Linked DNA regions of Homo sapiens. The protein of the gene in region 2 interacts with the protein of the main gene of each other region in a pairwise test. Each region holds a gene or a part of one and is shown on either strand. Other genes may lie near its edges.

Region 1 (12,836 bases), on a different chromosome or scaffold from region 2:
GTCCTCTGTGTCCAGCAGGTTACAGGCCACAGAGACCACTGAGACTCTCAAGTGATCTCTGTGAAGCACCCCCTCACTTCCCTTAACTTGAGAAGAAAGCAGCCCATTCCCCACATCTTCCCCAGGAAGGGGAAGAGAAAACATCAATGACTCTTTCTTAAAAATCCTCTACTTTTAATTTTTAAAAAACACTCTTCATGTGGGAAAGGGGCTCAAACCTTTTGTATTTTTGTCTTGGCGCTCAGTCTAAACAGAAGGTGCAATAGTGGATAATTCTATTTCTTCCTCACAACAACCTTATGAGATAGATACTCTTATGCCTCTTTAAGAGAGGCACAGAGAGGTTAAGAAATGTGCCCATGGTCACACAGCTAGTAGGAAGAACCAAGACAGGCCTAGGCAGCCTGACCACAGAGCCTGTGCCCTTAAACTATATGCTGTACCATCATCTGATCTGAGTTCCTGACACTTGGATTTGCCATCTGCGTACTTTTAAGCCCATCTTTTAAAACTACACTCACTGACATGTTGATTTGTCTTATTGCTTCTGGGAGTTCTGTGTCACCTTGTCAAAGTTTCAGGAATTACTCTAAGCACACCACTGATAGCTCTTGAGAAATGTGGTTGAGATACATTCAAGAGCTTTAGTTTAATTGTCTGGAACTCTTTTTTTTTATTTTTTATTTTTTATTTTTTTTTGAGACCGAATCTCACTCTGTGGCCCAGGCTGGAGTGCAGTGGTGCGATCTCCGCTCACTGCAAGCTCCGCCTCCCAGGTTCACGCCATTCTCCTGCCTCAGCCTCCCGAGTAGCTGGGACTACAGGCACCTGCCACTACACCTGGCTAATTTTTTTGCATTTTTTAAGTAGAGACGGGGTTTCACCGTATTAGTCGGGATGGTCTCGATCTCCTGACCTCGTGATCCGCCCACCTCGGACTCCCAAAGTGCTGGGATTATAGGCGTGGGCCACCGCGCCTGGCCTGTCTGGAACTCTTGATAAGAATCTTGGAAGCAAAGTCTGTGTTCCCACGGTTATTCACAAACACACTCATTAAGTCAGTCAACTCCTCACTCTGGTTTCCTTGGTGCTAACTGTGCACAGGCATGTATGCTCTTAGTTTGTTCTTTGCATGTGCTCAGCGATCATGCATTCAGTCAGTCCTGAATGATCACACACTCGCCCCAGGCCTTGGGGTTGTCTCCCCAGTTGGTACTTGAGCTCTTCAAAGCAGGAATCTATCTTTTACTTCCTTGGTCTCCTGTCCTCATGCTCCCAGGTGGCACATTTCTGGCCCATGCTGGCCTCTCCTGCTGCATCTTCTACCAGGTTCCTTTTTGTTCCTTGACAGAGTCCCCATAGACTTTTTAGTTCCTCATTCTTGCCATCTCTCTTCCCTCCCCACTTTCTTCCTCCGAAGGATCTTTCCACAGATTACCGTTGGCCAGAATTCTCTTACCTTCTCACTTCATCTGGGCTAATTCCTGCTCAATCTTCAGATCCCAACTCAAGGATCACTTCCTCTAGGGGGTCCTCCCTGATTTCTCTAAGGAATTCAATCCCCTTAATATTAACTTTCCTAGCATCCTTTCTCTTTTGCAATATTTGTCATTCTTGCAACTTTAAACACACAATTTTGGGATTCTTGTCTGCCTCCCTCACCAATGGTAAGGTCTATAGAGGCAGAGGCAATGTTTTTCTTCTCTCTTTTTTTTCTTTCCCTTCTCTTTTTTCAGCTCTGGGTTCCAATGCCAGCTCTGCCATGTACTAGCTGTGTGATCTGGGGCAGGCTGCTCCAGCATTCTCTGCTTCAGTTTCCTTATTGTATAATGGGGATAATAACAGAGCCTATCTCAAGGGCTTTTTATGAGAATTAAATAAGATAAACTTTGCAAAGTACTTACAGCAATTCCTGAGGCACTTTTAGGTACTATGCAAGTATTTGTTAAATAAATATCAGGTTAAAAATGCTTGAATAATACATAACAAAGGTGAATTAATACCAACTTCACTGTTAATTTTAGGAGTTCTGGTTCTTCCCTCTTAACCCCCTTTGGGTGATATCTAAGCAGGACCTGCTGATAGCCACATCCTCCACAGCATAGCTGGTGTTACAGGGAGGGCCTGGGGACCTTACTAAGGACCTGTCAGATATCCAGCCCTGTTTTATTTCTAGTGATAGGAATGCTAAAAAGTATGTGTCCAGGGAGGGTGACTCAGGGCATTAGAAGGGATGATCCACTGCTCGAGTTCCCAGACAGAACTTTTCAGACAGAATTTCTGGGAAAAGCAAAACCAGTGGTGGGCACTGAGGATTTCATTTTGCAATATTCTGCCAGACCCAAAGCCTGGTCTGCTCAGGAGGGGGACAGCCCAGTGGATTATGGGAGATTTCTCAGGATCCTGAGACAATTAATGATGCTACTTTTGACATGCCTGAGGGTGGCTAAAACTGAAACACAGAGCAATTATGCAACCCAGCCAGTCACGTAGCATCAGCAAGGCTGAGCTGGGTCAGATTTCTGGACTCCAGACTTACGTTTAATCCGATGAGATTCACAGCCATGCTGTTATCCCAGCATAGACTTTGTTTAGTCACAGAAGCTGTTAACATAATTTCAGAGATGTGTGGCCAGGGACTCCTGGGTCATCTGGTAAAAATGACGTTACCAGGAAATGAAAGTACTCAAAGCTCTAGAGAAAGTGTGTGTCAGGATCAAATAGGAAAAAACAAACAAACAAACAAACAAAAAAACCCACATTAAAACAAGAAGACCAGAACAGGCTTATGTTAGTCTGTTCTCACATCGCTAATAAAGACATACCTGAGACTGGGTAATTCATAAAGGAAAGAGGTTTCACTGACTCACAGTTCTGTATTGCTGGGAAGGCCTCAGGAAACTTACAGTCATGGCGGAAGGCAAAGGAGAAGCAGGTACCTTCTTTACAGGGTGGCAGGATGGAGTGCGTGCAAGCAAAGGAAATGCCAGACGCTTATAAAACCATCAGGTCTCGTGAGACTCAGTCACTATCATGAGAGCAGCATGGGGGAAACAGCCCCCATGATTCAATTACCTCCACCTGGTCCCACCTTTGACACGTGAGGATTACAATTCGAGGTGAGATTTGGGTGGGGACACAGAGCCAAACCATATCAGGCTGTATATGTAGGCAGAGAAACTACTGTACTATGGACAACATAGGTATACGGTAAGAGTATTACTGCTTCACTGATAACTTCTAGAACATGCTGAGGTTGGTGCAGCCTCCAGTACTTAAAATAATATGAATTCAGAAAAAGACAACTTGTAGTTCCACGTGTGTATTTATGTGTGAGTATCTAGTTATGTCAGAATTCACATTTTTTTTAAAAAAAAAGTTTTATGAAGACTCAAAAGAAGTTGGAAAAATGTCCATCTTTCACTTCCTACTCTTTCTCAGTTTCTTTTTGTTTTCCATTCAGTGAGACAAAAGGTAGTGGAAAAAGAATGGGTTTTGGAGTTGCATAGATCTGGGGTCAAGTACTGACTGTACTGCTAGTGATTTGACCTGGAGCAACTTTGCCTCTTTGACTCTTTGACTTTCAGTTTCCTTATCTATGAAATGGTTGTAATAATACCTGACCTCACAGGACTTATGTGTACTTGGTATATGATAGACACTAAGCTAGATTTGAACTGCAGTGTATCTTAGACTCATTTAAAATACAAGTTTAAAATGGATTTATCAAAACAGAATAATATCGATGCAAAGATAGACAGATAGATCAAAGGAACAGAATGAAGAGTTAAGAAATAGACCTGCTTATATAAGGTTAATTGATTTTCAACAAAGTTTCCAAGATAATTTTAAATAGGAAAAGGAGTCTTTTCAACAAATGATGCTGGAGCAATTGGACATCCATAAGCAAAACAAAAACAAACAACCCCTCCCCAAAATCCTTGACCTATATCTTACATTTTAGACTAAAATTAACTTGAAATGTATCATAGACCTAAATGTAAGGCTGAAACCATAAAACTTCTAGAAGCAAAACAGGAGAAAATCCTCATGACTGGGTTAAGCAAATATTTCTTTGATAGGATTCAAACAGCACAACCAAAAACATTTAAAATAAATTGGACTTCATCAGAATTAGATATGTTTGCTCCTGAAAAGACACTGTTCAGGAAATGGAAATGCTAGCCGAAATTGATTTATTTCTTTAACATTGCTGTCTCCTAAAACTGAGGCCCGGGGTAGATATAATTAATAATTCTTGTGCAGTCCCATCCTCTCCCGACAGAGTGCACTTTCTAGATGTACCCTCTCTCCCTCATTCTTTATGCCATTATTCAGTGCCATCATTCTCGCAATCCCTGTCATGAGTGAGGGCTGGGAAGAAGATTGAGCTATGCATTTTGAAGTTGGAATTCCCTTCTCTTAAATTCCATTCCTGGGAGTGACAGACAGGGGAAGGAGCAGTGATAAAAAGTCTGGAGTTAAAAGTCTGGAGATGGGCACACACATGACAGGAGGCAACCTGAAGCCCTTGGGAGCAACAGCGTACTCCTAACAATGACAACTAAACACAGGCACTGAGCATGTGCATTTGGCCAGACATGGTGCTTTCTTTGCATCATTTCATTGAACTATTTTATTCTGTTCTGTTCTATTCTATTCTATTCTATTCTATTCTATTCTATTTATTTAGAGATCTCGCTCTGTCACCCAGGCTGGAGTGTAGTGGCATGTTCAGACCTCATTGCAGCCTTGAACTCCTGGTCTCGAGTGATCCTCCCACCCCAGCCTCCCAAGTAGCTGGGACTACAGGCACTCGCCACCAGGCCTAGTTAATTTTTGTATTTTTTTGTAGAGATGGGGTCTCACTGTGTTGCCCACGCTGGTCTCAAACACCTGGGTTCAAGTGATTCATCCACCTCAGCCTCTTCAAGCATTGGGATTACTGAACTAAGACACTGCAGTTGGCCTCGTTTAACTCTAGTAGAAATATCCATGCAGGAAGTATGTGGGAATCGGGGCAGCAGGGACTCCAAGCAGGCACCCCAGAATTTCTTCTGGGCTGTTCCTTCCCTGACTCCTGCAATTAGTCCTGCTTTTCCTTTGGCTCTGACTTGCTTCGTCCTTTGGAATTCATTCTCGATGTTTCCCCACACTCATCTCTTTTCTTGGTTGTATTCCCTTGGGACTGTTGGCTCAGGTTTGGGGATTTATTATGTTTAAAACTTCAGCCTCTGTTTGGCTTCCTGGCACCAGGCTTTGTACTTCCTGCTCCTTGAATCTGGTAACTCCTATCCCCACCTCCTTTCTGCCTACTCAAAGCTTCCAGTCTTTGGTGTTGGACAATCCCTGGATGATGACCAATCTCGTATGTCCTAAGGTATACAATAAAAAATACCAGGGTCAACAATCAACAGGCATCTCTTTCTTGGGCCCATCTTGTTCTAGTGTCCCAGACATTCCAGTGTAGGCTTAGATATAGATGGAAGTGTTCTAGTGTTTATGATGGACACCTGTTGAAAAGACCAAGTCTACCATGGCTGAGGTAGCTATGGAGGGTTTTACGTATTAACACAATGGTGAGGGTATCTTTACTGGTGTGAGCACAGTTCCACTGTATGGATGATCGTGATGCTGGAGTGGTCGATGGTTGGTACCTCCAGTGCCAGCTGGGGATTTATGGATGAACACAGGTGAGTAGTCAAGTGGGAAAAATGGCAGCATTCAGTTCATCTTCCTATTCTTCCTCCAGGTGTCTTCTTAGAATCAGGATCAGGTGCAAACCCAGGGGGGTTCCTGTAGCAGCAGTGAAAATTCCAGTGCCTAAGCTATATATGTTCAAGCAGGTCAGGTGGATGTCGCATGCGTCAGTTTGACTACAGCAGAACCATGAGAGATGTTTCCTTTAGAGTTGGCCCACAAGACAGTCTGGCTGCAATCCACAGGCCACAGACAACTGGAGGGAGTGGATCTCTCCCAGTTTCCTTCCACTTAGCATGAAAGCCTCAGAATAAGCAGCCCAGGGAGCAGAGAGACTGACATTAAAGCCTGCAATTCCTCTTCCAATTTTGATCACAGCAGCCATTTAAACACAGGGTCTACCGAGGTTTAAAAAACTTGAACTGTGCTTAGTTGCACTCTGAAATAGTCCTGCTCCTCCCCTGACCTACGAGAGACAGCAAAGAGACGTGTCAATAGCCTCCGCATGAGGCTTCAGAGGAGCAGCTGTGTATGGCAGGACGGAACAAAACCTGCCCATAGTATCTTTTACGACAACATGTTTCCACTTAATGCAGACCACTGAAAAGAATGTGGGAGCTTTTAAAAAAAAATTATTATAAACATAGGTTTGTGACCTTGATGTGGAAGGCAGCTAGAATCTCTGCTTTTAGAGGGCTAAGCAACACCAGGCAGCCTTCAATCTTAGAAGGGTTAAGCTGAAAGGGTCTCAAAAGGTCACGTGGTTTATATAATCCTACCTGCAGAAGACCCCCCCCCCCGCCAGGCACAACGATTTTACAGACGAGGAATGTGAGGTGCGGAGAGGTTAAGGAAGGATTTATCTTATTTGCATAAGGAGTGGAAGAACTGAAACCGAAGCCCCAGTTCCTTGACTGTAAATCCCGCACTTGCTTCCAACTGTCTTTCATCCAGATTATGGGATTCAGCTGCCTCTGAAAACCTGTAGCCCAATAATGGTTATTCCCCAGGAGCCGCGCGAAGCATGAGCTAATTTTCAGTGAGCGCGGACTTTGGGGTAACGGTTCCAGCACAGCACATCCCTTTCTCCTCTTTTCACTCATCGTCACCGCTACCTGAAAACCCTGGCCGGGTGCTGGGGCTTGAGGAGCAGTTCCCACTTCCCAGTCTTTTTCACTTTTCACAGCTGCAAAGTTCAGGGAGTTGAACTGCAGTGCTTTCAGTTCACTGCTCACTCTGCCACGATCAATCTCTGTTGTAAATTTTCCTCCCAGAGCACGTGACGATGCACTTCTTGACTATATATCCCAACTGCAGCAGCGGAGTTGTCAGAGCGCAGAGCCGGACAGAGCAGAAGAACCCTCTTGGACTGGACGATTTGGGAATTCAAAACTTGGGACAAACTGTCAGCCTTGGTAAGTCAGCAAGGCTACACTTTGCTTTCAGAAACATTTGAAAGAGGGACATTTTTGCCAATTAATAGATGAATTTTTTTCCTTTATTTTCTTCCTGCTTTTCTTTGTTCTAAGGAAACATTGTTTTGAATTTAAAATAGTTTGGTTTTGGAAACACAATGTAAACTTTGTTTCTGCTCAGTTAAAATACGTTTCCCAGTTTTAAAGATACTATTTACTGTATGCTCCTGTCTTACATTGATTTTTTTTTTAATCAAAGTAATACTGCTCACTACAAACAGGACAAATGTGTACACTAAAAAAAAAAAAAAAAGTCCTTCTTACTTTTCCCAGTGAACCTTCCCGGGCTTCTCTCCCGTGCACTCCAAGCCCTCATAGCTCACTCTTGTCAGCTGTTTGGCGAACCCTCTTATGCTATTTCTTTCATGCACTTTTAAGCTTTTTTGGTATTGCAGTTCCACAAACCTCGTGCTCCCCCACCTCCCTGTGCCCAGGACCTGGGGGAGAGTTCTAACCTGCGGCTTTTTCCCCAGCCCCTGCTGTGGAGGCAGCCTCAATGCTGAAAATGGAGCCTCTGAACAGCACGCACCCCGGCACCGCCGCCTCCAGCAGCCCCCTGGAGTCCCGTGCGGCCGGCGGCGGCAGCGGCAATGGCAACGAGTACTTCTACATTCTGGTTGTCATGTCCTTCTACGGCATTTTCTTGATCGGAATCATGCTGGGCTACATGAAATCCAAGAGGCGGGAGAAGAAGTCCAGCCTCCTGCTGCTGTACAAAGACGAGGAGCGGCTCTGGGGGGAGGCCATGAAGCCGCTGCCTGTGGTGTCGGGCCTGAGGTCGGTGCAGGTGCCCCTGATGCTGAACATGCTGCAGGAGAGCGTGGCGCCCGCGCTGTCCTGCACCCTCTGTTCCATGGAAGGGGACAGCGTGAGCTCCGAGTCCTCCTCCCCGGACGTGCACCTCACCATTCAGGAGGAGGGGGCAGACGATGAGCTGGAGGAGACCTCGGAGACGCCCCTCAACGAGAGCAGCGAAGGGTCCTCGGAGAACATCCATCAGAATTCCTAGCACCCCCGGGACCCCTGCCGGTGGCTCCATCAGCCAGCAACCTTAGAGAGAGGAAAGACAGTTTTCAAGTGTCTGGTTTCACTTTCACAGTGCGGCTGCCACTTTGAAGAGACCCTTGGTAAACCCCTGATTCGGGGTGGGGTGGGGGACTAGGCTCAGCCGGAACCAGCACCTCCAAGGAGTCCGGGAGGTGCCTGTGGTTTGCACCCACCACTGAAAAAGCCGCGGAGATGCGCAGCGCGTACACTGACTTTGGGGCCTGGGTGTTGGGGTTCTGATCAGAATTTGGCGGGATGATATGTTTGCCATTTTCTCACTGGATGCCCTGGGTAGCTCCTGCAGGGTCTGCCTGTTCCCAGGGCTGCCGAATGCTTAGGACACGCTGAGAGACTAGTTGTGATTTGCTATTTTGCCTAGAGCTTTGTCCTTCTAGATCTGATTGGCTGTAAGTATCTCTACTGTGTACCTGTGGCATTCCTTCACAGTGGGTTACAAGCTTCTTTTGGATTAGAGGGGGATTTTTGATGGGAGAAAGCTGGAGATCTGAACCCAGCCCATTTGCACACTATAAGAAAAAAAAGTAACTTTTAAACCTGTTAACATTGGCCGGGGTTATAAGAGATGATCTTCTATTTTGACCTTTTGTCTAACTTATGACCTTGAACTCTGACCTGTGACCATGCAGCATCACATGATGGCATGACGTTCTTTGGATCAGAAGAGCTTCCCCAGAATCTAACCTGCACTCCCGATGGTGGTTCAGGAGACTCTTCCTGATCTTTCTAGAAGGGGTAAAGTGGGGTTGAACAAGGCCAAGCCGTTAGCTCTGCTGCTGCTCAGTTTCCCAGCCTAGTTTTCTGAGCTGGGAGAGGACATAATGTGGTATTTCGTCACGTAGCTGAGACCTAGAAGGGCATACTCAGGCGGAGATTGCACAAAGCTGGGCTCCAAGTTCTGTGCTTCCTGATCCCGAGCCCTGACACTCATTTGCTGTGTGGTCCCGGGCATGTCATCAAGAAGCTCGCTGTCTGCATGAGGCTCCCGACGATCTCCATCCCCAGGGGGTTGGGAGGATGTCTTTAGATTTTAGGACTCTGTGATAAATATTCCACAGCCTGGTGTGAGGAAGCTTGGACCAAATGCTTCCCCTTTGGCCGGTTAGTCTGAACAAGGATCTGCTGATTTAAAGGAGCAGTTGGAGATTCAGAACACATATAACTGGGGAATTCAGGGCAAGCTACCAACCCAGCCCTGCTGTAGTTTTCCCAGGACTGAAGGAAAGAGGCAGACACCACATTCTCCTCTGCAAAGTTCTCTGGAGAATGTGTGATGTTAACACTCCCAGCTAAGGGAAAGCAAAGTCTAAAGGAAAACACACAGGAATGCTTCCAATGTCTCCAAGTATTCCTGTGGTCAACAGTTTCGCAGATCCGTTAGGCCCTTAAAGACAAGGAGGAAGTAAAAGGTCAAATTTAAATCTATTTAAAAAAACTTTTAAAAAAATTATTTATTTATTATTATTTTTTATTTTTAAGACAGAATCTCGCTCTGTTGCCCAGGCTGGAGTGCAGTGGTGCAATCTTGGCTCACTGCAACCTCCACCTCCTGGGTTTCAGCGATTCTCCTGCCTCAGCCTCCTGAGTAGCTGGGATTACAGGCGCCTGCCACCACGCCCAGCTAATTTTTTGATTTTTAGTAGAGATGGGGTTTCGCCATTTTGGCCAGGCTGGTCTCAAACTCCTGGCCTTAAATGATCCTCCCACCTCGGCCTCCCAAAGTGCTGGGATTACAGGCATGAGCCACTGCACCCGGCCACTTTTTTTTTTTTTAAAGAAAAATGCTCTGCATGGATTGGAGACACAGCAATAACTACTGTTGCCATGGAAGGGTTAACAGTGTAGGAGCTGGTTTATCAGTCCGCTTTGACATACAGCTAAAGGAAATTTATGTTTGGGGGAAAAAGGCCCTCTGTTCACTTTAAAATTCAGTGTGGACTTATGCCAAAGGGGGCTGTTTAAGTTGAAAGAAGCCAAGTTAAGTTTGGCCTCTTGCCTGGAATCACTTGAATTCTGAAATTTCACTGCGACGGACATGTGCCTTGTCACATTTTCCATTGCTTAATCCTGAAGTTTGGTGCAAGTCTCTCTGCACCTATTAAAAAGTGATGTATATACTTCCTTCTTATTCTGTTGAGTTGTATAGAATTGTCTTTTGTATTTAACACTTTGTAATTTTCACAATATTTTTTAATTTAAATAAATAAACACATTTTTTCCCTCCTGGGAAGTCATGAATTCTTTGTTTGATTTTTCAATATAATTGTTAGTTTCGAAGACATCACAGATACGTTTCCCAAGACATCTCTGGATTTTGCTCCTCTCCCAAGTCAGTATCTCCTGAGGGCGTATCTTATTTCTGTCTGAACCATGGGGTGAATGAGGCTTGGCTTTTCATCCTTTGAAATGCTTTGTAATGAATGGAAAACAAGCTGCAGATGGTCTTACATGGACTTCTCTGTTTAAATATGGCAGCCCTGGAGTCTTTGGACTTTGAACATGCAGTGACAGGTCAACTGCTGCTAAGATGTTGCTCCAAGCTTGGTTGCAAGAAAACGTTTGACCTGTATGTTGGCTTGGCAAATATTATCCACACATGTGGCCCAGCAGCACCTGCTAATGGGCAAAGAGCTGCTGTATGAACAGCAACACAAACTTACCAACACAGTGAAGCACGACGTGTGGGGCTGGGGTTGACTCTCCTCCCTCTCCTGGTCTCCTTCAGACTGGGACTGATTCCAGCCCCTCCCACTTGGTCTGTCTGTATCTCTTGCCCACAGGCTGAGGCCGTGGCCAGCCTGCGGCAGCCTCTTCTTCATAATTTTATTTGCATGACCTGTTTTTGAATCAAGCAAATGGTAGGAAGCATCCTTACTTTTATGTTTCTCTGTTTCCTGTGAGATTGGCTTTTCTGTTTCAAGTAAGTGTTTCCCTTCAGTTCACTAGTAACTGTCTACCTAAAAAATTTACCTGGCAACAGTACAGTGGAGCCTGGATCCTTCCCAAACAATATCGAGGGCCCTGATCCATCAGTTGGTACTTTGATGATGTAAGATGAGAAGATTGCTGTAAAAGGCAAGAGAGCCTTTCCATTTGTCCCAGTTTAATGTCGTTCTTCGTAAGGAAATGGTTAAGAATTTTTCTATTTTTTTAAGCCATGGGTGGAAGGAGAGGGAATTCTAAACTCTAATTGTCCTAAAAATATGCAGAGTACACTTTGTCGTTTTAATGGGATATTTGTTTTCTTTAAAAAAAAAAAAGAATTTCTAAGCAGAACCTAAGGCCCAAGGGGTTTAGTCTGTGTGGATTTACTCATGCATGTGAAAAACTGAGAGGATAATTTGGCCCTGTGCACCTAAGATATTAAAAACATATTTTGAAAGCACTTAAATGTTAGGGATGAGGTAAATGGATCATCCTGCCTGCTCCACACTGTTCTAATTACACCTTTGTACGTCAGAGTCAGGCAGGGATGTTACACAGTAGAAGATTTCTTTCACTGGTAGAATCATGGGATCAAATCTACTGGGAAAGGCTGAAGTCAGGCCAAGGAATGAATGCTCTTGGCTCATGATTCTGGTTGGAAAGTGGACCCCCTGGTGCCTTTCAGAGCTGCAACTGGAGGGTTTCATGGTCAGACATGCACTTCTAGGATTCAGCTAAACGAGGGTAATTTATCATCCTGTAAAATGCTGCTCTGACCGTAGACATTGTGGAACAAACAGAACATTGAGCTTAAAATGTAACTTAAACTCCAGCTTCAGGCAGAGCATACTTTTGCCTCATGCCCTTTCCTTAAAGTCTGTGTACTGTGCTGAAGAAAATCACAGGACATATCATCGGTCATGGGACTAGAGGCAGAGTCTAGCGCTGGAGGGAGACCTGTCAGCCAGTTGGTCAGGATGGTGGCTCAGGCTACGCCTGAAACGCGGGGAGGTAGGGTGTAAATAGTGGCCAGTGGAGCCTCAGCCTTGTTATGTCTGGCTTTCTAGCCTAACTCTGCTACCATGTTGCTTGTAGCTCTGGGGAAGCTACCTAACCTTTCTGAGCTCTCTCTTTCAACAAGAAGACAGCATGCTGGCTTTTCTCTTTGGGGAGTTGTTCAAAGAACGGTGGAACGCCCTGAGAAATACTCAAAGAAAAGCAGATTCAGGCTTCTACTTTAAAAATGTGTCCTGGGCATGCATCTGCAAATAAAGTCACAAAACATCCTCTTCTATGGACGCTTTCCTCAGGAGACTGCTGTGTGCTCAGAAAAAGTGCACGCTTTGCCAAAGGAGAAGGGTCACAAGAGGGAAAAACCACTGTTAAATTCAGCCTTCCCCCATTTCTGAAATGTTTCCTCCCACACAGGAAGGAACAGTTTGGGATGTGTGCTGTTACCATGGAGATAACCAGCTAAGGTCACTTGATGGAAGGAGTCTGTGGCCCACTAGCATGGATCATTAGGGCCAATCTCGGGAGCTAAGGTTTTGTCCTTGGCTCAGAAAATGAGCTTTGAGCCCATGGCAGCCTCTATTCACAGGTATGGGAGGGGGTGCAGGGACAACACCGTTCTCCTTTTGTCTTGCACAAGCCTGTCCTCTCTTCGTACAT
Region 2 (8,561 bases):
AACTAACTTAATGGAAAATGCAAAATGTTAATAATTATGAGTGCTTTTGATCATAGAAGTCATTGCCAGTATTAATATCTACCAGATCCATGTGGCTGTTTGAAGATATATTATTAACTTTGCTATTCATCTCATAGAATGAAGTGTTCTGGTTAAATACAGAGCCTAATAATTACTGTTGGCCCTCCATATCAGTTGGTTCTGCACCCTATGTGGATTCAACCAATTGTGGATTGAAAATATTTGGATTTAGCCGGGCGTGGTGGTGCACGCCTGTAATCCCAGTTACTTGGGAGGCTGAGGCAGGAGAATCGCTTGAACCCGGGAGGTGGAGGTTGCAGTGAGCCAGGATAACGGCACTGCACTCCAGCCTGGGTGACAGAGTGAGACCCCGTCTCAAAAATATATGTATGTGTATATATTTGGGGGAAAAATAACAATACAACAATAACAAATAGTAAATAATACAAATAAAAACAGTATAACAACTATTTACATTGCATTAGGCATAAAAAATCTAGAAATGATTTAAAGTATATGGGAGGAAGTGAGTAGGTTATATTTACTGTGCCGTTTTACATAAGGGACTTGAGCATCTATGGATTTTGGTATCAGGAGGAACCTGGTACCAGTCCTCTGCTGATACTGAGGGATGACTGTACTAAAACCCATTTTTCATTCTACGGACCTTTCTCATTGTTTTGCATACATTAATTCATCTAATCCTCATTCTTATGAACTTGGTATTATGTGAATCCATTGGGAAATGAAGACTCAGAGAGGTTAAACCATTTGCCCAAGGTCACACAGCTACTAAGCGGTGCTAGGATTAAACCCTGGCAGTTTCAGTCCTTAACCAAAGGGTTAAGTGCTTTACATATATATACTGTATATTATCAATTTTCAAATAATTTGAAATAGTAAAATGCAGTTCCTCTGGTCCTGAATATGAGGTAATCTTCCTATGGTTCAGAAGACATTTCAGCATTTCCTAATATATCATAATGAGTCCATTTTGGTTGTACCATGATGTAGTCATTTTGTTTTATAGTATATTAAAGAATGCAGAAAAGCATAGCTCATAGTTCAGTGTCTTGCTCTGAGGTTTTTCCATTCAGTAGACATTTTAAGTATATGTACCAGGCACATAAATATCCAGATAATTAAAGTTTATATCATTAAGCAAAACAGTTTTTGTAAATCTTTTTTTTTTTGAGGTGGAGTTTCTTTCGCCAGGCTGGAGTGCAGTGATGTGATCTTGGCTCACTGCAACCTCCACCTCCTGGGTTCAAGCGATTCTCCTGCCTTAGCCTCCCGAGTAGCTGGGACTACAGGCATGTGCCAACACGCACGGCTAATTTTTTGTATTTTTAGTAGAGATGGGGTTTCACCGTGTTAGCCAGGATGGTCTCCATCTCCTGACCTCATGATCCACCCAACTCTGCCTCCCAAAGTGCTGGGATTACAGGCATGAGCCGCCGCACCCAGCCAAGCATTTAGTTTTGTTGTTGTTGTTGTTTTAGAGATAGGATCTTGCTATGGTGTCCAGGCTGGACTAGAACTTCTGGGCTCAAGCAGTCCTCCTGCCTCAGCCTTCTGCATAGCTGGAAGAATGCCACGTATTTTGAGTGCTGGGCCTTTTCTGTATGCTTCCTGGATATCAATTAATTCCCTCTGGGTGACCGAGATGTTACCGCATCTGTGTTACTGTGTTAAACATCTGTCACCATTTAATACTTTAAATAATTTAAAAGATAAGTTTTTATGAGAGAAGACAGTTTTGGGGACGCTAAAAGAATATGAAAGAATTGTATGACTTGAGAAACATATTTTATGTTAGGAAATCAAATATTTTATTTTCTTCACCCTTCTGCAGAAAAAAGATTACTTTTAACCATTAAAATTACTATTTTATGGGAGGCTGAGGCAGGAGAATTGCTTGGACTGGGGAGGCAGGGGTTGCAGTGAGCTGAGATTGAGCCACTGCACTCCAGCCTGGGTGACAGAGCGAGACTCCATCTTAAAAAAAAAAAGCAATTGCCAGGCGCGGTGTCTCATACCTGTAATCCCAGCATGTTGGGAGGCCGAGGTGGGTGGATCACGAGGTCAGGAGTTCTAGACCATACTGGCCAACATGGTGAAACCCTGTCTCTACTAAAAATACAAAAATTAGCCAGGTGTGGTGGCGGGCGCCTGTAATCCCATCTACTCAGAAGGCTGAGGCACGAGCATCGCTTGAATCTGGGAGGTGGATGTTGCCATGAACCAAGATCGTGCCACTGCACTCAGCCTGGGTGACAGAGGAAGACTCCGTCTCAAAAAATAATAATAACAACATTTTCTTACAGCTTTTGCTTGGAATTTTCTAGCTGCTGTTTGATTTATTGTGATTTGAATGATTATGTTGGAAATATTTAATTTTATCTTCTATCTTCACAGTCCATATTTGCTCCATTTCTTACTTTACAACTTGCGTACATGGGATTATACAAATATTTTCCCAAGGTAAATTAATTTTTTTTCTAAATTTCGATGATGTGTTTGGATTGATTTATGACTAGCTAATTGAAGGAACTTAAAAATGTTAGTCCTGCTTACGGTCTGAATCAGTGCTACTCAAAGTGTGGTTTGCCCACTTATCTCCAAACTATGTGTTTGTGTTTGTTATACATTAAGTTCAAAAAATGAGTAATTGGCCGGGCGCAGTGGCTCACGCCTGTAATCCCCACACTCTAAGAGGCTGAGGTGGGTGGATCACCTGAGGTCAGGAGTTCAAGACCAGCCTGGCCAACATGGTGCAACCCCATCTCTGCTAAAAATACAAAAATTAGCCAGGTATGGTGACGCACACCTGTAATTCCAGCTACTCAGGAGGCTGAGGCAGGAGAGTTGCTCCAACCCAGGAGGCAGAGGTTGCAGTGAGCCAAGATTGCGCCACTGCACTGCTCCAGTCTGGGTGACAGAGTGAGACTCTGTCTCCAAAAAAAAAAAAAAAAAAAGAGTAATTAGAAACTTTTATAGCAATTTGACATTGCCATAACATTGTTATTCTGTTTTACAAAAATACTGTGGATTGAGGTCCTTCATGAAAAAGTGTGAATAGTACTTGTTTAAGCAAAGTATTAAATTTAATTAGTAAATTTAGTAATTCATTTTGTCTATAATAAAGGAAATTAATTAAAAAATGGATTTGATTATCTCATTGTACTTCATATTGGACACTTAATAGCAGTGCACTTTATCTTCAGTGTTGAGGGCCTGATATTTGCAATAAATATTTGGCCAATATTACAGAACAGAATGATGTTGAGAGTCAATGTTTACCTGGCCTACTTGACTACAGATATATACAGTTTTATGAGGCTTGGCTTGCCTGACATAGACGATAGCCTAACTAGTGTGATCGAATTTTGTGGGAGCTTTTTGCTGAAAAAATTGCTACTTGGCTGTCTGCGTGTTATATTTAATGGGCTGACAGACCTGTGTATGATTTTAATGGATTTGAAGCATTTGTATTTTTGAAGGGTCAAATAGGTCAAATATAAGAAGTAAAAGAGTAAATAACATTGTAATTTTAATTAAGCATTTGTTTAGAAATTCACCTTTGAGGCGGGGCGCGGTGGCTCACGCCTGTAATCCCAGCACTTAGGGAGGCTGAGGCAGGTGGATCACGAGGTCAAGAGATCGAGAGCATCCTGGCTGACAGGGTGAAATCCCATCTCTACTAAAAATACAAAAGTTAGCCGGGCGTGGTGGCAGGCACCTGTAGTCCCAGCTACTCGGGAGGCTGAGGCAGGAGAATGGCGTGAACCTGGGAGGCGGAGCTTGCAGTGAGCCGAGATTGCGCCACTGTACTCCAGCAGCCTGGGCGACAGAGCGAGACTCCTCAAAAAAAAAAAAAAAAGAAAGAAATTCACCTTTGAGGCTGGGCGCCGTGGCTCACGCCCTAATCCCAGCACTTTCGGAGGCTGAGGGGGGTGGATCACCTGAGGTCAGGAGCTCGAGACTGGCCTGGCCAACATGGCGAAACCCCATCTCTACTAAAAATATAAAAATTACCCAGGCATGGTTGCGGGTGCCTGTAATCCCAGCTACTTGGGAGGCTGAGGCAGGGAGAATCACTTGAAACTGGGAGGTGGAGGTTGCAGTGAGCCCAGACTGTGCCATTGCACTCCAGCCTGGGCAACAGAGCGAGACTGTCTCAAAAAAAAAAAAAGAAAATCACCTTTGAAACATTGATTGTAGTTTTGCAGTAGCAAAGTTTGGAACCTAAATGTCCACTGAGTGACTACATTAAAAAAAAAAAATTGGCCAGGCACGGTGGCTCATGCCTGTAATCCCAGCACTTTGGGAGGCCGAGGCGGGCGGATCAGCTGAGGTCGGGATTTCGAGACCAGCCTGACCAACATGGAGAAACCCCGTCTCTACTACAAATTCAAAATTAGCCAGGCATGGTGGCGCATGCCTGTAATCCCAGCTACTCAGGAGGCTGAGGCAGGGGAATCACTTGAACCCAGGAGGTGGAGGTTGTGGTGAGCCGAGATCGCACCATTGCACTTCAGCCTGGGCAACAAAGCAAAACTCCATCTCAAAAAAAAAAAAAAAAAAAAATTATAACGTATCTATTCAGAATGAAGATGCTCTCAATGTACTGACAATGGTAAGCTCTCCAAGAAATATTAAGAGAAAAAAAAACAAAATTCAGAATAGAATCTATAGAATCTATACTAATTTCTTTTTGAAAAGAAAAAATAATGTATTATTTGATTTTGCTTATATATGCATAAACAAACTGAAAGACTATACATGAAATTATTAACAATACTTATGTGTGTGATAGAGATGTATATATGGGTACTATGTAAATGGAAGAGAGAAAAGGGAGACTTTATATATTCTCCCAACAAAACAGCATTTTGTTATAGCAGGGTTTTTTTTGCTTGTTTGTTTTTGAGACAGAGTATCACTCTGTCGCCCAGGCTGAAGTGCAGTGGCACGATCTCAGCTCACTGCAGCCTCCGCCTCCTGTGTTCATTCTCCTGCCTCAGCCTGCCAAGTAGCTGTGACTACAGGTGTGAGTGACCACACCCACTTAATTTTTGTATTTTTAGTAGAGACGAGGTGTCACCGTGTTGGTCAGTCTGGTCTGGAACTCCCAGCCTCAGGTGATCTGCCCACCTGGGCCTTCCAAAGTGCTGGGATTACAGGTGTGAGCCACTGCACCTGGCCTGTTATAGCAGTTTTTAAACACAAAAGTTGGCCAGGCGTGGTGCCTCACGCCTGTAATCCCAGCACTTTGGAAGGCCATGGTGGGCAGATCACCTGAGGCTGGGAGTTCTTGACCAACCTGGCCAACATGGTGAAACGCTATGTCTGCTGAAAATACAAAAATTAGCTTGGCATGGTGGGTACAGACCTGTAATCCCAGCTACTCAGTGTCTGAGGCAGGAGAATTGCTGACCCGGTGGCAGAGGTTTACAGTGAGCCAAGACAGCGCCACTGCACTCCAGCCTGGGCGACAGAGCAAGACTCCATCTCAAAAATAAATAAACACAAAAGTTGAAAGAATTGTGCCGTGAACACCCATTTATATAATACCAACGACCTAGATTCTACAATTAACATCTTATTATATTATGTATCTATCAGGTTTTCTTTTATTTTTCAAACCCAAGATAATCTCTGTAAAGTTTTTCCATCAAATTTTTCTTGATGCATTTCAAAGTATGTTGTAGGTGTACACATCGGTATACCTCACCCCTCTTACATAACACTGACTTACAATTTACTGTTTTAAGGTTCTTTAGGTAATTTTTTTTTTTTGAGACGAGGCTTGCTCTGTCACCCAGGCTGGAGTGCCATCTCGGCTCACTGCAAGCTCCGCCTTCCGGGTTCACACCATTCTCCTACCTCAGCTTCCCAAGTAGCTGGGACTACAGGCGCCCGCCATCACGGCCGGCTAATTTTTTTTTGTATTTTTAGTAGAGACGGGGTTTCACCGTGTTAGCCAGGATGGTCTCGATCTCCTGACCTCATGATCCGCCTGCCTCGGCCCCCCAAAGTGCTGGGATTACAGGCATGAGCCACCATGCTCGGCATTTTTTTTTTTTTTTGAGACGGAGTCTCGCTCTGTCACCAGGCAGGAGTGCAGTGGCACAATCTTGGCTCACTGCAACCTCCACCTCCCAGGTTCAAGCGATTCTTCCACCTCAGCCTCCCGAATAGCGGGGACTACAGGCACACGCCACCAAGCCCAGCTAATTTTTGTAATTTTAGTAGAGACGGGGTTTCACCATGCTGACCAGGATGGTCTCTTTCTTTTTTTTTTTTTTTGAGATGGAGTCTTGCTCTTTCGCCAGGCTGGAGTGCAGTGGCGAGATCTCAGCTCACCACAACCTCCGCCTCCCAGGTTCAAGCGATTCCCCTGCCTCAGCCTCCCAAGTAGCTGGGATTACAGGCATGTGCCACCACACCTGGCTAATTTTTTTTGTATTTCAGTAGAGACGGGGTTTCACCATGTTGGCCAAGACAGCCTTGATCTCCTGACCTGATTATCTGCCCACCTCGGCCTCCTAAAGTGCTAGAATTAGCTGGTCTCTGGTCTCTATCTCTTGACCTTGTGATTCGCCCACCTCCGCTTCCCAAAGTGCTGGGATTACAGGTGTGAGCCACCGCACCTGGCTTTTAGGTAAAATTTTAAGGTAAAATTAGTTCTGAGGCCGGGTGCAGTGGTTCACACCTGTAATCCCAGCACTTTGGGAGGCCGAGATGGGCGGATCACCTGAAGTCAGGAGTTCAAGACCAGTGTGGCCAACATGGTGAAACCCCATCTCTACAAAAATTTGCCGGGCATGATGGTGGGTACCTATAATCCCAGCTACCGGGGAGGCTGAGGTGGGAGAATCGCTTGAACCCAGAAGGCGGAGGTTGCAGTGGGCCGAGATCCTGCCATTGCACTCCAGCCTGGTCGACAGAGCAAGACTACGTCTCAAACAAAAAAAATTAGTTCTAATATGAAGAGTAGGGTACCAGCGTAATTAATTGATTGCTTGAAATGCTTGTCTTAATTGTACCATTTAATACGTTTGTTATCCTATGAAACCCATACCTCTTTCAAGGTTTATAACTTCACTGTCACCCCAGGAGTTTCTTTCATGCTCCTTTCCAGGCAGTCCCAGTCCCTATACCCCAAAGAACTTTTTCCCACGATAGATTAGTTGTGTCTGGCATAGTAATCCATGTAAGTGGGATCATTCTTGATTTTACTTTTTTGTGCAAGCCTTCTTTATTCCGCATGATATTTTTGAGATTTATCCATGTTGTTGGATAAATCAGTAGTTAATTCCTTTTTTTTTCTTGGCTCAGTAATACTACATTGTATGACTATATCCATTTATCTAGTCTCCTATAGATGGACATCCTGGTTGTTTTCAGTTTTGGGGTTATTATGACTAAAACTAAGAGCTTTCTTGTATGAGGCTTTTTGTGAGCATAAGCTTTCATTTCTTTTAGGTAACTATAGGGTTTTTTTTTTTTTTCAGATGGAGCTTTGCTCTGTCACCCAGGCTGGAGTGCAGTGGCACGATCTCGGCTCACTGCAGCCTCTGCCTCCCAGATTCAAGCAATTCTCCTGCCTCAGGCTCCCAAGTAGCTTGGATTACAGGCATGTGCCACCACGCCTGGCTAATTTTTTTGTATTTTTAGTAGAGACGAGGTTTCACCATATTGGCCAGGCTGGTCTCGAACTCCTGACCTTGTGATCCACCCACCTCGACCTCCCAAAGTGCTGGGATTACAGGCATGAGCCGCTGCACCCGGCCAACTATAGGTTTTTATATTTAAAAATATTTTAAACCGTATGATTGGATTTTGTGATAATAAAGAAAAATTCAGCTTTTAATCTCTTAAAAAAATGAGACTAGAAAATTAATAAGTAAATGTTCTCTCTTCCACCAGAAGTATACTGAATTGTTCAGTGATACCCTATTGGATGTGTAATCAAGTGTGGATTCCTTTGCATAACAATTAGGGCCCTACATTCCTATAAGTCTGTGACAAATTACTCATTGTTCTCCAAGCATTCTTCTGCCTCTAACTTGTCCTGAGACTTAACGCTTCAAAAAACTTTCACTTCTGCCAGTCTAAATCCTGCTCTTCTTTGAAGGTCTGTTTTTAGTTGTTGTTTTTGGAGACGGGGGTCTCACTTTGTCATGTGGGCTGGAGTGCGGTGGTGCAGTCTCAGTTCAGTGCAGCCTCAACCTCTTAAGAGATCCTCCCACCTCAGCCTCCTGAGTAGATGGGACTACAGGCTCATGCTCAGCTAATTTTTGTATTTGTTGTAGAGACAGAGTCTCCCTATGTTGCCCAGAGTGGTCTTAAACTCCTAGGCTCAAGCCATCACCCAGCCTCGGCATCCCAAAGTGCTGGGATTAGAGGCATGAGCCACTGCACTTGGCCTGAAGGCCTGTTTTTAATTTTACTTCCTCTGAAGTCCTCCTTGTGCTTTATTTACATAAAACACTGGAGTAATTTATATCTCCTGTGAGCTCCTATGTCACACA
Region 3 (7,553 bases), on a different chromosome or scaffold from region 2:
AGAACTGTCCACAGACAGCCAGAAGATGCTTTGCTAGTTTCTTGATACCTCATTTCTCACCAGCTACCCTTCCCCCACCAGGAATCCCCTTCATGCAGAGTCAATGAGGAGAGGAAGATGTCACAGAATCCGTGGAAGGAAAGAAAACAAAAGGTGGGTGGGGAGAAGAGTTGGGAGTGTAGCATTGTAAGGGTCCTATACTATGCGTATTATTTGAGGGTTGGCTGTGATTAATTAAAGGTGTTTCTTGCAGACAACCATTACACACACACTCTCACACACACACACACACATATATATATATATATACAGATATATATATGTGTGTATGTATATATATATAATAGAGAGAGAGGAGGTCTCACTCTGTCGCCCAGGCTGAAGTGCAGTGGCCCAAACACAGCTCACTATACAGCCTTGACTTCCCAGGCTCAAGCAATCCTCCCACCTCAGTCTCCTGAGTAGCTGGGACTACATGTGTGGGCCCCCATGCCTGGCTGCTTTTGAAATGGTTTGTTGTAGAAATGGGATCCTGCTGTGTTACCCAGGCTGATCTGGACCTCCTGTCCCCAAGCAATCCTCCAGGCTCAGCTGGAAGTGTTGGGATTACAGGGATGAGCCACTGCACTTGGCTTAGACATGTTTTTAAGAAGCATAAATACGAATTTCAGTGTTGCCATGAAGTCAGGCAGGGGTTGGCAAACTATGGCCCACAATCCAGATGCAGTCCCCTCCTGTCATGGTGAATAAAGGTTTATTGGAGCCACAGTTCCTCCCCTGTGTTCACTTCTTGTCTGTGGCTACTTAGGGCTGCAGTGGCGAAGCTGAGTAACTGCTGAGTAGGTGCAACAAAGACCACAGGGTCCACGAAGCCCAAGATGCTTACTACCAGGTCCTTTGCAGAAAAATCTTGCTGAGCCCTGGGGAGGGGCCAGGTGGCAGCGGGGAGGCCAGTGGGGAGGCTGGTACAGTAATCCAGGTGAAAAACGATGAGAGCTCAGATTAAAACTATCATGACAAGTGGCTGGAATCAGGATATATTTTGGGGAAAGGACCAACAATACATAGATAAAATGGACAGTATTTAGAGTTTCAGATTTTCTTTCTACCAAAGGATCCCTTTCTAAAAAAAAAAAAGAGTACAAAAGATCAATTTTAAAAACTGACCAAAGAAACACCACCACAAGATTATTTGTGTGATTGAAGCTGGGGTTGAGCCTGGGTACCTTGTGTTTTCAACACCCCTAAAACCCCGGCTGTTCCAGAGGCACCTACAGAGCCCCTTGGGTTCAGACGAGCAGAACTTGAAACCATGGATCGGAAGGAATAGAAATCTGCATATCTTTCACACAAGCCGTAACATTCTAAGCCGCATATTTGCAGGACGCTGACGTGGGGCTACTTCACCCACAGCCAGCAAGCGTCTGCGCCAGTTCTGGGATTTGTGTCCACCTTGTTGTAAGAAGGCAGCTGCTTGCGTGAGGCATGGCGGTGAGGAAACAATGCCACCCGGATCTCACCATTGGCCGTGTGGACTGGCTGTACCATGGGCCAGACGCATGTCTTGGGCAGACACTTTTTAGATGCCAACTTGCCTGTAGACAAAGATGACGCAGAGGTGGCCTCGAGGACGGCCTGTGTGATGGGTTGAATTTGTCCCCCGAAATTCCTGTGTTGATGTCCTAAGCCCCAGTGCTTGAGAATGTGATCTTATTTACAGATATCATCTTATAGAAATAAGTTAAAATGAAAAATGAGGTCAGTAGGGGGGCCCCCAATCTAACTACTGGTGTCGTTATTATAAGAAAAGGAAATGTGGACAGAGACACACAGAGGGAAGACGAGGTGAAGAGACACCGGGAAGGCCACCTACCTGCCAGGAGAGAGGCCTGGAACAGAGCCTTCCCGCACCGCCCTGAAAAGGGACCTTCCCTGCCGACACCTTGATCTTGGACCTACAGCCTGCAGGACTGTGAGACAGTGAGATTCTGTTGCTGAAGCTGCCCAGTCTGTGGTACTTTAAGGAAGCCCAAGCAAACCAATGCAGCGTGGTAGCCCACAGCTGGTGAAAAGATGGAATGAGCGACGGAGCCCCAGGCTTCCTGTCTACACCTCCCAAAGTGCGCTACGGGATCCTTTGGTGGGTGCAGGTTTGCAAGATAATTTTAGGAGGTGCAGGGTGCATAATTTCAATGTACATTATTATGGATTTATCTTACTGTGAAAATGCTTCTAAGAATAGTTTACTTAAGGTTTACATGCTACTCAAGATATAGCTTTAAATGCTAACAAAAAGTGGACTCAAATGAAAACATTCTCTTGCTGTGGTCCAGGGAATCTTGATGTTTTTTCCAGAGAGACTCGCAGCTTTCAGCTACAGCTGCCCTCCCCTTCCTGTCCACTGCACATCCCCACAACACACACACATATACATACATACATGCACAGACATCCACACGCACACACATATACGTACATGCACACGCATACATGCACACACATATGCATGCACACACCTGCACACACACACACACACACACACACACACACTGTGCGTCATGCCCTTACTAAGGAGGCATGGAAGGGAATGTGTGTCTGTAAGGAAATGAAGATGGCTCAAGCCCCTGGTTCCCTGGGTGTTTGCACAGGCACCCTCCCTGCAGACCTTTCTTTGGTCTCTTTCTCTCTCTTAGTGAAAGAGAGAAGCAGAGCCCCAGTGGGTACCCGGCTGCTTAGGGCTCAACCCAAGGTCACAAGCTTCCTCGAGAGCCTGGTGAGATGGGGGCACCACAGGGCCTCCCAAACCAAGGGGGCAGCGTTCAGTGGAGCCTGATGCCCAGGAAAGTGATAGACAAGATGTCTCAGTTCATCAAAGACCCAACCACAATGCAGTGAGGAAGGGCAGCTGCCAAAGGTTTTATTCTCCAGGAGGAGGGGCTCTCGGGGGCTGTGAGCAGCAGGCACGAGGACTTTATTGCACGTGTGGTTAGGTGATGACGACCTACAGCTGCACTGGGAACTGGGACTCAGAGTGCCCCGACCTCCTGCTCTATCTCTCTCTGTCCCTCTCTCCCTCTCTGTCTCTCTGCCTCTCTCCCTCTCTGCCTCTCTCCCTCTCTGCCTCTCTCCTTCTCTGCCTGTCTCTTTCCTTCTCTGCCTCTTTCCCTCTCTGCCTCTCTTCCCCTCTGTCTCTCTCTCCCTCTGTCTCTCTCTCCCTCTCTGTCTCCTCTGTTTCTCTCCCTCTCTGCCTCCTCTGTCTCTCTCTCCTCATATCTCTCTCCCCTCTCCCCACCTCTCTTTCTCTCTCCCCTCCTCTCCATCTCTCTCCCTCCTCCTTTCCCTCCCTGACCCCCATTTATGCACCTGGGCCCCCCTCCTGGGCAGGCACACACACAATGCCAAGGCCACTGTCTGGGATGTGTGGGCAAGGCTGCAGGACTGTGGTCCTGGTGTGGCACCCCCACCTTCCAGCACAAGTGGGGTCGGGGGTCCCAGGCGTGACTGCGCTCTCCTGCGTGGGCGCCCTGCACTCAGGGAAGCAGAAGCTGCAGGTCTCCACTGGCTCGGGGGATGTGCTCACAGGGCTGCCGGCTTCCATCGCGTGATCTGCAGAGGCGAGAGTGGAGGGCGTGGGCCAGGCCTGGCCCTGCACTAGGGTAGGGGTGACGGTGTGGGCAGCCGCACTCTCCCCCGACCCAGGAGCTAAGGGCAATCACCAGCGTAGAACGCCCCCAGACAGGTGTCAGTGTCCGCCAGTTGCTGACCAGAACCTGTGCCGGGGCAGGGGTGGGCAGGCAATTCTTGGCTCTCACTTCTGTCCAGCACCGAGCCTGCCACGCCCCCCAAGGGGACACCTCCTCCTGGGCTTAGCCCTGAAGGCTCTGCATCTGGAGAATCCTGGGCCCAGGCAAACCTGAAGACCGGCACCCCACACCCACCCTTCCCGGGTGCCACTCTCCCAGTTATCTGTCTGCCAGGATGTCTTAACCTGATTTTATCAAGGTATAGCAAGTAACAGGGATGAGCCCTGGGCCTCTCCACCTAGAAGCAGGGGCAGTGACAGGACCGAGGGATGGCCCGAGGCTTGTCACCCAAGCAGCGAGAAGGGCGAGGACCCCAGTTTCATGCACTCACCCTGGGAAGACTTGGCCGGACTTTGACGGGGCCTTGAGCGGGGCTGGCAGGAGCAGGGATCCCCCCTCTTCTTGAGGAAGCAGGCCACCGCCACCAGGAAGCAGCAGAGGACGGCACACAGGCAGAGCCCCAGCGTGCTGTAGACCAGGGCCACCTGATCTGCACTCAGCTTCAGCCCCGGGAGAGCTGCAAGACAGCATGAGACCCCTCTCTGCAGTGCCTTCTTCTCTTCCCGTCATTAGGCTCAAGCAATCCACATCCCCCCATCCCCCTGCTGTGAGCCTGTCTGGCTCCTGGAGAGGCTGGGCTCCTTTTCTGACCCTGAGGCTGCTGGGATGCTCTCTGGATCCTGGAGGAAGTTGATCCACTCCCCCATCCTGGCAGCAACTTTCTAAGGCCTCAAAGCTGGAAACGTGAGCTAGGCCTTCTTGTTGTCTCCACTTGCTAGGGCTGTAATTGGGACAGCGCTGGAGATGGGCTGATGGGTGAATCGACAGACGAACAGACGATGCTCCAGGGAGCATGTCTCTGTGCATCCTGAACTGGGCCCTTCCTCCAAGGAGAAAGCTTCCTGAGTGAGCGTTTACAGTCGTCCCTTGGTATCCATGGGGGACTGGTTCCAGGATCCCCTACAGATACCAAAATCCGCGGATGTCCAAGTGCCTGATACAAGACGGCCTGGCATTTGCATATAACCTATGCACATCCTCCTATACAATTAGAGTCATCTCTAGATTACTTATAATACCAAATACAATATAGATGCCATGTAGAAGGGTGTTATACTGTATTGTTTAGGGATAACAATGAGAAAAAATGGCTGCAGAGGTTCAGTACAGATGCAACTATCCCCTATCTTTTCTGAGTATTTTCCAGCTGCTGTTGGTTGAATCCACAGACATGGGTCGCACGACACAGAGGGCCCACTGTGTTTGAGAGTAGGACAGGCGACGTTACACTGAGACCAGGACAGCAGGTGCCAACCAGGAGGGCTTTGGGCATCAGGGCACCTGGCCACCCTATGACTCAGGACTTGTGCCTCCAGGTTTGGATGCCAGAGACAGACTCAGCCCAGGTGAAAGCCCTCCCCTTGGAAGTTCTCCTTATCCCAAAAGCTCTTCCTTGTCCCTGGAGCTGGGCATCCTCTAGGCGCTGGGTGGAAAGACAGATGAGCCAGATTTAAGATGACACGTCAAGAAGAGCGAGTCCCACTTCGTGCCGGGCACTTCCCCTACAGCACCCCCTTCATCTTCCCGCTCTGATGGCAGACAACTACCCCCATTAAAAATACTGAGAATTTGTATACCATCAAATTTGCTGTATTAAAGTGTACAACCAGTGGCTTTTAGCACATCACAAGGTTGTGCAGCAATGGCAACTGTCTAATTGGAGACAATTTTTATCACCAAACAGAAACCCTGTCTCATCAGCAGTCACTCCCCATTCCCTCTTCCCAGCCCCTGGCAACTGTTCATCTCTTTTCTGTCTCTGTGGATTTGCCTATTCCAGACATTTCATATTAATGAAATCATACAACACGTGGTCTTTTATGCCTGGCTCCTTGCACTTGGCTTTGAGTTTTCAAGGTCCACCATGTCCTGCCGTGCTGTGTATTAGACCTTCGTTTCTCTTTAGGCGGAATGGACAGACCACATCTGTTTACGCATTCAACAGGGAATGGGCATTTGGGTTGCTTCCACTTTCTGGCTATTGTGAATGACGTTGCTGTGAACATTCACATCCACATGTTTGTGTGGATGGATGTTTTCCATTTTCTTGGGTGTATACCTAGGAGAAGAATGGCTGGGTCACATAATAGCTCTGTTTTGTTTTTTGAGGACCTGCTGGACTGCGTTGCACAGCATCTGCCGTTCACACTCCATTTTACAGATGACAAAACTGAGTGTCTAAGATATTGTTCTCGGTCTTAGACCTGCACCCGGGAGCCGGTCTCACCAATTCCCAGGCCGGTGCTCCAAGCCCGCGGGCCACACAGCGGCCCCAGGGCTGGCACTGCCCGTCTTCCTCACACACGCTTTTAGATTCAGGAATCTCATAAAGTGACAGAGCTGCCAGGACTCTTAGGGGTCATCAGTGTCACTCTGACATTTACAGGGGGGAGATGGGAACTTGGGGTGAGTTCGTGTCACTCCGCCAGTCAGTGGCTGTCCTTCTGTCCAGTGCCCAGAGCTCAGAGAGGCCTAACGGAGGAAAGCAAAGACCCCAGGACCTGCAAACTTGGTGCCACATATCCAAGGCTTACCTGCTCCTATTCACCTCTCAAATCAAATGCAAACACTGCCCTGGAGGCATGAGCAGGGGAGACGCTACCAGCCCTCAGAGCACAGACAGAATGCCAGGCTACAGGTTGTTACTAAGCGGAAATGAACGGCGTTGATTCAAGGAGGAAAACTAAACATTTGTGCATATTTCAAACATTTCATCATAAGATTCTGAAACCCAGCTTTCAGAGACCATGCAAGTGTTCAGAGACCACACCCAGAGCACAGTCACCTGACATCATGCCCTGTGGACCTTCTGGGCTGGACTGGGCCTCATCCTATCCAGGAGAGTGCCATGGGGGCGAGGTTGTGCCACTCCAGGCCTCTGCCTCAAGAAGGCCTGACAGCCTCGGTGTTTGCTCCCTTGGGCCTGAGCTACCACTCGAGAAGTCCAACTGGAGAGTCCCAGTGGAGAGGGGCAAGCCCTGAGATCAGCTGGAGGGGAAGCAAGGCCTGAATATCCCAGCATCAGAGTCAAGCCTCCAATGGCTCTATCCCCAGCACCATCTGCATGACAGACCCCAAGCAAGAGCAGCAGAAGACCCGCCTAGCTGAACCCTGCCTCCCCACAGAGCCACGCAGGGTCACAACATGAAGATGAGGATCTGGTGCCAAGTGTCCAGATCCAGTGACAAGTGTCCTTATACAAGAAGAGAAGGGAAGAGACACAGGCACGAGAGAGAAGCCATGTGAAGACAGAGGCAGAGATGGGAGTGATGCAGCCACAAGCCCAGGAGGCCTAGTTCTGACCTTATTCCCAGAAGGGGTCACGGGCACCCCCAGTGTCTGCAGGACACAGAGGCTGAGCAGTTCCATGGCTGATCACATGCCAGCACCTCTCCCTCCAGTTCTAATCTCATGCCAATGCACTGTCCTTCTGTCCCCCTCCCAGGTCTCTGGTTCCTATTATTGCCAGAAGTAGCCTCTCACAGGGCCCCTGCTGCTATCGCCACCATCCAGGGGCAACAGAGAGCTCTCCCCACAGCCCTGCTCTGACCCCCTTCTCCCATGGCTGCCCCTGCCCCCAGCAGGACATCAGCCTCCCAGCCTGGCACATAGGGCCCTCTGTCATCTGGCATCTGGTCCCTCCTAGTGCCATCTCCAGCTGCCCCTGAATCCTTGCTCTTCCCAACTCAG

What was found.
Region 1: the proteins of CAMLG (region 2) and KCNE4 interact in binary tests that used the Homo sapiens proteins (3 or more experiments, as listed by UniProt).
Region 3: the proteins of CAMLG (region 2) and TNFRSF13B interact in a two-hybrid assay, tested with the Homo sapiens proteins (one study listed by BioGRID).

What each region holds. Positions count from the first base shown.
Region 1 is NC_000002.12:223,045,160-223,057,995, forward strand, and holds KCNE4 (potassium voltage-gated channel subfamily E member 4), read left to right. Parts: upstream 1-7,030; 5' UTR 7,031-7,115; intron 7,116-7,648; 5' UTR 7,649-7,671; coding exon 7,672-8,184; 3' UTR 8,185-10,478; downstream 10,479-12,836. UniProt on the Homo sapiens protein: Ancillary protein that functions as a regulatory subunit of the voltage-gated potassium (Kv) channel complex composed of pore-forming and potassium-conducting alpha subunits and of regulatory beta subunits.
Region 2 is NC_000005.10:134,741,548-134,750,108, forward strand, and holds part of CAMLG (guided entry of tail-anchored proteins factor CAMLG), read left to right. Parts: intron 1-2,439; coding exon 2,440-2,505; intron 2,506-8,561. UniProt on the Homo sapiens protein: Required for the post-translational delivery of tail-anchored (TA) proteins to the endoplasmic reticulum.
Region 3 is NC_000017.11:16,936,192-16,943,744, forward strand, and holds the end of TNFRSF13B (tumor necrosis factor receptor superfamily member 13B), read right to left. Parts: intron 4,321-7,553; coding exon 4,135-4,320; intron 3,607-4,134; coding exon 3,356-3,606; 3' UTR 2,890-3,355; downstream 1-2,889. UniProt on the Homo sapiens protein: Receptor for TNFSF13/APRIL and TNFSF13B/TALL1/BAFF/BLYS that binds both ligands with similar high affinity. Mediates calcineurin-dependent activation of NF-AT, as well as activation of NF-kappa-B and AP-1.